Linked DNA regions of Homo sapiens. The protein of the gene in region 1 interacts with the protein of each later gene in a biochemical or structural test. Each region holds a gene or a part of one and is shown on either strand. Other genes may lie near its edges.

Region 1 (4,664 bases):
ACATTCCTAGTCCCTGTCAGTGGGAGCTCATGGTACAGTGGGGGAAAGGATGTTAACAGTTACGTCATTTAAACACAACGTTTCAATATTATATGTGCCACAGAGAGATACAGTGATATTTGTGGGGATGGTCCCGATTTAGATCTGGAGAGGAGGGAAGGCTTGTCTTGGAATATTTAAGGTTGGACCTGAAGGATGAGTCAACTTAGGTAGAGTCAGGTGGAGAGGAGTGTTCCAGGCAGAGGTTAGTGAGTTTGAGACCACTGTGCTGGGAGCAAGGGGGTGGTATCTGGTAAGGCTGGTAGGGGATGAGCCTCTTTCCGGGACTATCTTGGACCTGGGGAGTGTAGGGCTCCTTTGCCTTGCATTGAGAAGTAGTAGTTGCAAAACTGGAGGTTATCTTCGTACGTGTTGAGGTGGTGTCTGCCATCCCCTTTGCACCATTCCAGAGCCAGATGAAGTCAGAGCTGGCAGCGGTGGCCTCGGAGTTTGGGCGACTGACACGGTTTCTGGCTGAAGAGCAGGCAGGGCTGGAACGGCGTCTCAGAGAGATGCATGAAGCCCAGCTGGGGCGTGCGGGAGCCGCGGCTAGTCGCCTTGCAGAACAGGCCGCCCAGCTCAGCCGCCTGCTGGCAGAGGCCCAGGAGCGGAGCCAGCAGGGGGGTCTCCGGCTGCTCCAGGTGAGCAATGTCCCCTCCCTGTTCCCCCAGCATTCTGTGTTGGCTGTCAGGCAGTGCTTACCAAACGCCTGTCCAGAGCTGCCTCTTTTCTCCCTGGGAGGAACCCACAGTGATTGAACCTGAAGACCAAAAACATGTTTTAAAGCTGGAAACAGAGTTAATGTCGAATGTGGTATGTGTGGCGATTATACCCAGTGAAAAGCATGAAGATTCGGTTGTAGGAGAGGTTTAAATGACAGTTGAGGAAAGTCTTTTTGACAGTGACATCCTGAAAAAGGTGAGCAAGTCGTATTGTGGAAATGACAGTATCCCTGGGCTCACAGCAGGATGAGGCGAGTTAGGTATGGCGAGGCATGGGGTGGTTGAAATGGATGTGTGTTCATTGAGGGCCGTGAGGGTGCTGCTTCTCCCTTCCTGCTCAGGTTCAGTCTCTGACTGGAGATCGGGGAACGCTGTCCCTGTGCAGCTGACACTCTCTTTATCTCTTTCTCCCTCTCCCTCTTTTTGTTTCTCTTATTCCCAGGACATCAAGGAGACTTTCAATAGGTGTGTTCCCAGTCTTTGCCCTTCGTGACCCAGTGGCATCTGGTTCCCTGTCCCTGCTTCTCTTCGGTATCCCTCTCCTCTCCTTCCTTCCCCAGGACCTGAGTTTCCATCTCCTGGACCCTCCTCTCCTTCCCCTCAGCTTTTGCTTTTCCCTCTGGGAATATCGTGGTCCCACCCCCTGCCCGGTCCCCTTCCTCCAGGTGTGAAGAGGTACAGCTGCAGCCCCCAGAGGTCTGGTCCCCTGACCCGTGCCAACCCCATAGCCATGACTTCCTGACAGATGCCATCGTGAGGAAAATGAGCCGGATGTTCTGTCAGGCTGCGAGAGGTAGGGAGGTCACCTCCACGACCTTCCTTTGCCTTTCCCTTCACAGACCTGAGACTGGGTCCTGAGGGAAGTTGGGCCCCAGGGAAACTGTGGGGCTTGAGATGGAGCAGGATCCAGGCAGCCACTCTGAGGTTGAGGTTTCAAGCCATGAGCAGGTAGACCTAGTGCAGGCAGGCCTGGAGGGTGGGGTGGGGTGGAGTGGCAGGAAGAGCCAGGCTGGGGGAAGACCTGTCAGGTATCCTAGGAACAAGAGTGAGGAGCAAGATGAGCCTGCAGGAATCTGAGGCTGGCCTCTGGGATGGTGTGGGGAGCTGGATTCAGGGAGAAAGGGGGCCCAATCTGTGGAGTTGGCTGCTGACAGGGGAACAGCCGTTCCAGCCCTGGCGTATTTGTCCTCCCTCCCTCCCAAGTGGACCTGACGCTGGACCCTGACACGGCTCACCCGGCCCTGATGCTGTCCCCTGACCGCCGGGGGGTCCGCCTGGCAGAGCGGCGGCAGGAGGTTGCTGACCATCCCAAGCGCTTCTCGGCCGACTGCTGCGTACTGGGGGCCCAGGGCTTCCGCTCCGGCCGGCACTACTGGGAGGTAGAGGTGGGCGGGCGGCGGGGCTGGGCGGTGGGTGCTGCCCGTGAATCAACCCATCATAAGGAAAAGGTGGGCCCTGGGGGTTCCTCCGTGGGCAGCGGGGATGCCAGCTCCTCGCGCCATCACCATCGCCGCCGCCGGCTCCACCTGCCCCAGCAGCCCCTGCTCCAGCGGGAAGTGTGGTGCGTGGGCACCAACGGCAAACGCTATCAGGCCCAGAGCTCCACAGAACAGACGCTGCTGAGCCCCAGTGAGAAACCAAGGCGCTTTGGTGTGTACCTGGACTATGAAGCTGGGCGCCTGGGCTTCTACAACGCAGAGACTCTAGCCCACGTGCACACCTTCTCGGCTGCCTTCCTGGGCGAGCGTGTCTTTCCTTTCTTCCGGGTGCTCTCCAAGGGCACCCGCATCAAGCTCTGCCCTTGATTATCCTGCCACCCGCAGGGGCCCCTCTGTCAGCACTTGGGGGGTGGGTGGTGGAGGGTGGCCCGTAAGTTTGAGGGCTCAAAGGCTCTTCCCACTGCTTGTTACTGTGTTGCTTCCCACTCCCCCTTGACCCCAGGCCCCTGCTTCTCCCTCTAGGAGCCTAAAGAACCCTCCTGGCCTCCAGCTCAGCCTTCTCTCACCTACTATGTCTGTCCAACAGGTCTGCATGGGTCCCTGATAATGAGAACAGCTGCCTGGTCTTCTCTCCCAGTCTGCCTAGCCCAGCCCTGGGACTGGAATTTGAGTAGGGGATGAGGGGAAATTGTAATTTCATTCCTTAACTTCCTTTTCCCCACCCCTGCTCTTCAACCTCTTTATCAGTTCTGAGGCTGGAGGGTTTGGGCAAGGCAACATCCCCATTCCAATTCCATTTTCTGATGCAGATTTTAGCTGAGGGATTTGGAAGCCATTTGGGGAGGCAGGCTGGGCCAAAGGGTAGAGCTGGGTAATAAATGTCTATTCTCCTGGGGAGGAGGGATTCTAAACTTTCCTTCCGTCCTCAATTTCTACCTCCATAGACCGGCCAGAATTTAGCTTCACTTGAGAGAGATCTGGAATGGTCGCCATGATTGAAACCACGCACCATTACATCATCATTACATTAATTACATCAACATAAATTATTTCTTCCCCCTTCCCTTTTCCAGCACTCAACCAAGGAGCAAAGCTCATCCCACCCCACACCCCTCCCAGGTCTGCTCACTGCCAGGCTCCTCTCCCCTTTGTTCAGTGGAGCTGGCTTTTCTCCCAGCCCCTTTCCATGCCTTTCACTCCATTTGGCAAGCTCTGAGGGGGAGCCTGGGGACGGGTTTGGGTCCCCAGGAGGAGAGCCTTGGGTATAATCTATTTTTCTAGGAGCCTCTTGCCTTGTCACTTGCAGCTTTCGCCCTCTGCTTTGATGGCTGAGGTGAACTCATGTTCTTTGGGAAAAGGGAAGGCGTGCTGTGGAAATAAAATGTTTATTTGCTTCTCTTGTGAGGTCTGTTCCTTCAGGTGAGGGTGTAACTCAGGATTTCTTCCTTTGCCGCCCCTGCAGTGAGAAGCCACACAACTGAACTGGTTAGTTGCAGTTAAAGGCATGCTTTGCACCTGTTACCAGGCAGGCTCCTATTTCAACAGGGATGTGGACCCTGCTCCCCATTTTAATATCTTAACCTAACTTACTAACTGTTCAGTCTACTTAGAGATGTTTGCCACACGTAGTTGAAACTGAAGCCAGAAATGCCTCATCACCATTATAAATTGAGGGGAGTAGGAAGTGGAGGGTGCATGTGGGCCTTCAATATGCTGTAGTTGCTTAGCACAGAAAATTGCAAGGGTAGTGGGGTCTCAGCCGCATGTTGAACCATTCCATCCCTGTACTGAGGTTTCTATTGGAAACTGTAATTGTAGTTTAATGGCTCACTTCTGGCCTTTCACAAGGCATCTATCCTCATGAATAAACTGTGTTTGTGTGTAGGGGGATTGAGGGCCAGGTTATAGTAGCAGTTGAAATGTTTAGTAGGGCCAACTTTATGGTTCTATTTATGAATGCTTCCAGACCAACCACCCCAAAACTTTTGACCTGAGGAATAAATTAGTTTTGAATTAAGTTCTTCTGGTGAGAACTGCCTTGCTTAAAGAATTAAAAACCCTTGACTTTCCTCAAAGACCATGTTGACAGAGACTGCTAACATGAAGCTTAAGTTTTCTGAATTATGTTCAAATCTTTAGAGGAATGAGGATTCATCTTCCACTCTTACGTGTCAGGGGTTGGACCTGCGGAGTCTGCTTTTTCTAAAAATTGACTGCAACCACTTTGAAATCAGTTCTTTCCCTCAAGAAGGTTCCCCAGGTTGAAGGTAGGCCCTGATGATCTGCACGTGGTATGTAGGACGCTGATGGGGTTTAAGTTCAGGGAAACTGCTATGTGACTTCTCACAAACATCCCACCTGATGCTACCCCAATCCTGAGAACTTAGACGGACAGCTCCCCTTCAAAGCCTTGTTTACTTAGTCCATACCTTGCATCCAGTTCGCTAGTGCAAACTTAATGTGT
Region 2 (4,885 bases), on another chromosome or scaffold:
GAGATTATTTTTCCATCCAGGGTGCCATCAGTAATCATGCCACTACTCACCAGTGTTGTTCACCAACACCCACCCCCACACACACCAACATTTTGCTGCCTACCTTGTTATCCTTCTCAAGAAGCTGAAGTGTACGCCCTCTCCCCTTTTGTGCTTATTTATTTAATAGGCTGCAGTGTCGCTTATGAAAGTACGATGTACAGTAACTTAATGGAAGTGCTGACTCTAGCATCAGCCTCTACCGATTGATTTTCCTCCCTTCTCTAGCCCTGGATGTCCACTTAGGGATAAAAAGAATATGGTTTTGGTTCCCATTTCTAGTTCACGTTGAATGACAGGCCTGGAGCTGTAGAATCAGGAAACCCGGATGCCTAACAGCTCAAAGATGTTTTGTTAATAGAAGGATTTTAATACGTTTTGCAAATGCATCATGCAATGAATTTTGCATGTTTATAATAAACCTTAATAACAAGTGAATCTATATTATTGATATAATCGTATCAAGTATAAAGAGAGTATTATAATAATTTTATAAGACACAATTGTGCTCTATTTGTGCAGGTTCTTGTTTCTAATCCTCTTTTCTAATTAAGTTTTAGCTGAATCCCTTGCTTCTGTGCTTTCCCTCCCTGCACATGGGCACTGTATCAGATAGATTACTTTTTAAATGTAGATAAAATTTCAAAAATGAATGGCTAGTTTACGTGATAGATTAGGCTCTTACTACATATGTGTGTGTATATATATGTATTTGATTCTACCTGCAAACAAATTTTTATTGGTGAGGACTATTTTTGAGCTGACACTCCCTCTTAGTTTCTTCATGTCACCTTTCGTCCTGGTTCCTCCGCCACTCTTCCTCTTGGGGACAACAGGAAGTGTCTGATTCCAGTCTGCCTAGTACGTTGGTACACACGTGGCATTGCCGCAGCACCTGGGCTGACCTTTGTGTGTGCGTGTGTGTGTGTTTCCTTCTTCCCTTCAGCCTGTGACTGTTGCTGACTCCAGGGGTGGGAGGGATGGGGAGACTCCCCTCTTGCTGTGTGTACTGGACACGCAGGAAGCATGCTGTCTTGCTGCCTCTGCAACGACCTGTCGTTTGCTCCAGCATGCACAAACTTCGTGAGACCAACACAGCCGTGCCCTGCAGGCACCAGCACGTGCTTTTCAGAGGCTGCGGACTTTCTTCCAGCCATTGTGGCATTGGCCTTTCCAGTCTTGGGAGGAGCGCGCTGCTTTGGTGAGACACCCCCATGCAAGGTCCTCAGAGTAGCCGGGTTCTACCACAAACAGAAACAGAATGAAAGTAGCTGTCAGTCCTTGTAGAGAGCCGCTCTGTTTCCTCCCAGAAGCATCTCCCAGCTAAGCTCGCATTATTTTTCTCCTCTGGCTGTTTGCCTGAAGTTCACAGAACACACAACCATGAAAGGCTTTTTGAGGTGAGAGGCCCAGGTGGTCCTGGCAACCCTGAGTAGAAGGAGAGACGGGGTAGGGAACGGGCCCGGCCAGAAAAGAACCATTTCTTCTGCCATCTTTTATGCACCATAGACATCGAGACTCCAGGGGGTCCTGGCTCCCCTGTCCCTGCAGCCCTGCAGGTCAGTGCATGATCTGGGTTCGTGTCCTGACCAGGTGCTCCTCCTTTGATCCGAGGGGAAAGGGACTGGTTTATAGAAAGAGCCTAGGAGACAAAAGGGCCAGTCCCCCTGCCCAGAATGGAGCAGCAGCAGGACAGACCCCCACGAGGCCCCCCAGAGAGGAGGAAGATCCCACGGAGGAACACATGAGGTTAGGGACCCTTGTTCAGCACCCCAAACAGCCTGCCTGTTTAAAGCAGGCAGCAGGCTTAGGCCTTCCCTGCAACCCCAACACCCACAAGTTTGTTTCTCTAGGAAACACATTCACTGTCTCAGCTGGCTGTTACTCTCTCAGACCATATGGCAAAGTTTTCCAAGAAAATGCCCCGACAGGGGTGCCCAGCACACTGCCTGAGGGACAACAGACATCAGAACAAACCCCCAGAGAGAAACAGTCAAAATCAGGGCCCGGTGCAGTGTTGTCATGTGGAACCTGCTTTATCCATTGCTGAGTGTTGAATGTGGGTAATGGTTAGGGCTTTCCAGATCTCAGCAGCCAAAGACAGTTATTGTTGGAAGACTGTCATGTAGATAACCATGAGCAATGGCTCGCCTCAGAATCAGTTCATAAAATTCTATGGTACTGGCCCCTTCGTGGGTATTGTGTGAAATGAGATGGTGGCGAGGGGTGCGCTGTGGAACTGCCGCAGCCACGCAGGAGGTCCCTGGGGGATGCTTTGGGAAGTCCTTGCCCCTGAGCACTGCCTGATTGCCAGGGCCTGTGGAGGTCTAGGCCGCCTGGCAGAATCTAGCACCGTCCGAATCCCCGCAGGACCCATGGAGCTATGACCACACCAGGCCATTCAAATGGCTCTGCATTATCTTCCCTTGGAAGGTGGCCACTCCTCGGTGGCAGGGCCTTTCCCTGAGGCTGCAGGCCGTGGGCTGGCAGCCCGTCTCTTGGCATTTCAATTGAAGGTCACCAGGTGCTGGGTTTGAAAGGAAGTCACTGGAGTGCTGCCAGGGGCCGCCCTCCAAGGTTAATGAGAGGCCCACATCCAGGCAAGAACTAATTCAAAAGGCAGATCAGAAACCACAGGAGTCAAAATTATTGCTCCGGCAGTGCTTCCCTTCCTTTCATCCACTGGCCTCGTGTGGTCCATGCAGGGCCACTGTCTGCCCTTTCTGATGCCACGTATTAGGCTTTCTTACTCAGAATTTTGATAGAAAACCATGGGGCCAAGAGCTCTGGAAGCCTGGCCGGAAAGACCAAGGTTCATGCAGCCCAACAAATGATTGTTGAGCACCTCTCGGAGCCAAAGTCCTTAGGCGAGTGTGGTGACTTCCTGGAAGGAGGATGCAGACTTCCAGAGAGCCCCCCCAACGGACGTGCTGAGAAGGGAGAGGGAGGCGGGGGCTGTAGTCAGGAAGGAGCCAGAGAAGAACAGGGTTTGGGTGCATCCAGAAATATGCCTGCAGTAGGAGGGAGAGGAAGGGGTGCCACCGTCAACGGCTTCCCATCGGAGGTGGTTGGTGCAGATGGAAGTTTCTGTCTGCTGGCCCTCAAGAGAGTGTTTTGCCAGGGACACAGTCTGTTCCTCCTCAGAAAACACCCCCCAAATGCTAACAACATCCCCACCAGCTGCTAGAAGCCCCTTTCCCCTCCCCACCTTGAAGTAGCTCATAGTTCTCTGGGCAGAGCCAGACCATCCAGTGTACCCCAGAGGCCAGTAGGTTCCTGCCCATTTTCCTCTCTGGCTTCCTGCCAAGAATTATGGCAGCTGAGGATGAATGGAGAAGTAAAAACAACTAACACCGCACAACTAACAACTAACACCGCAGTTCCCACCTGGGTTCCACTTAGCAGGAGACATTTCGGAGGGTTTTTTTTGTTTTTGTTCCTGTTTTTTTTTTTTTTGCTGGAATTTGTTTTCTCAGTACTGAAAAGAGAAAAAGTGACAATCTTGTATTTTTAAAAGCCTCGGAAAGGTGATACCATCTGACAGTCATTTTCTCACGTTGGTCTTCTAAAGTCACCTATTTCTTGTGTGTGCACATCACACCATTTCCTGTTTCTTTATAACCCGACAAGGGTAGGAGTGCCTGTTTCCCCTGCTGGGCACACCAGACAATCGTAATCACAAAACAGACACTGAGCCAGGGGCCCAAAGGGTGTGATCATGAGAGTTACCGGGACAGCAGTAGGCATGACAGTCACCAGGAAGGACAAGGGTGCTCTGTTGTTAGTGGCCACACACCAATTTGACAAGGAGTGTTGCGAAATTTTTATTTATTTATTTATTTATTTTGAGATGGAGTTTCACTCTTGTTGCCCAGGCTGGAGTGCGGTGGTACAATCTCGGCTCACTGCAACCTCCACCTCCCAGGTTCAAGCGATTCTCCTGCCTCAGCCTCCCAAGTACCTGGGACTACAGGTGCGTGCCACCACACCCAGCTAAATTTTGTGTTTTTAGTAGAGATGGGGTTTCACCATGTTGGCCAGGATGGTCTTGAACCCCTGACCTCATGATCTGCCTGCCTCGGCCTCCCAAAGTGCTGGGATTACAGGCATGAGCCACCACGCCCAGCCAAAATATTTTTTTAAAGTCATTTTCCTTAAGCTGCTTGGGCTACATGTGAAATACACTGGACGGTCAACATTCCTGTCTCCTCCCATTTGGGCTGATGCAGCAGATCCAGGGAATGTTACCTGTTTCTGCTGCTAGAAGATCCAGGAAATTGGGAAGGTTACCTGACGCACACATGGATGAAGGCCATCATCTAGAAATGGGGTCAACCACAATTGTGTTAATTCCGTAGTGTCAGGGATTCTTCGGGAAGGTCAACAGTATGAAGGATTCTGACCCCTGTGCCTCCCATTTATGTGATCAGGTGACAGTTAATAACCGTGGAGGTCACACTCAGCCATCCAACAGCCTTACAGTGACCCTACACAAAAGCCCCCAAATTCCAAAGACTTTTTCTTAACCTAAAGGAAGAAATTATTTGTTAATTCCAGTAGAGCAACTGAATATACTGGGCTATTTGTACTTTTTTATAGAGAACTTTAATAATAATTCTTTAAAAATGAGTTTTTAGAACAAAGCAACTGACGATTTCCTAAGATTCCAATGCCCTGGAGCTTGTAGGAGGACTTAGCCTGGGTCAGCTGGAGCACCCCCGACCTGATCTCCCACTGCCAGATTTTCCCATGCTCCTAGGGTATGGAGTCCACGTGGGAATGACTGCAAGTTCAGGTGGAACTTGGCCGACTGATGCTCTGCGAGTTTTTAATAGACACTGGGGAC

The links.
Region 2: the proteins of TRIM41 (region 1) and PRKCA form a complex in vitro, tested with the Homo sapiens proteins (one study listed by BioGRID).

What each region holds. Positions count from the first base shown.
Region 1 is NC_000005.10:181,232,210-181,236,873, forward strand, and holds the end of TRIM41 (E3 ubiquitin-protein ligase TRIM41), read left to right. Parts: intron 1-449; coding exon 450-680; intron 681-1,203; coding exon 1,204-1,226; intron 1,227-1,426; coding exon 1,427-1,554; intron 1,555-1,964; coding exon 1,965-2,566; 3' UTR 2,567-2,722; coding exon of another isoform or gene 2,723-2,881; 3' UTR 2,882-3,144; coding exon of another isoform or gene 3,145-3,195; 3' UTR 3,196-3,599; downstream 3,600-4,664.
Region 2 is NC_000017.11:66,804,842-66,809,726, forward strand, and holds part of PRKCA (protein kinase C alpha type), read left to right. Parts: 3' UTR 1-4,885. UniProt on the Homo sapiens protein: Calcium-activated, phospholipid- and diacylglycerol (DAG)-dependent serine/threonine-protein kinase that is involved in positive and negative regulation of cell proliferation, apoptosis, differentiation, migration and adhesion, tumorigenesis, cardiac hypertrophy, angiogenesis, platelet function and inflammation, by directly phosphorylating targets such as RAF1, BCL2, CSPG4, TNNT2/CTNT, or activating signaling cascade involving MAPK1/3 (ERK1/2) and RAP1GAP.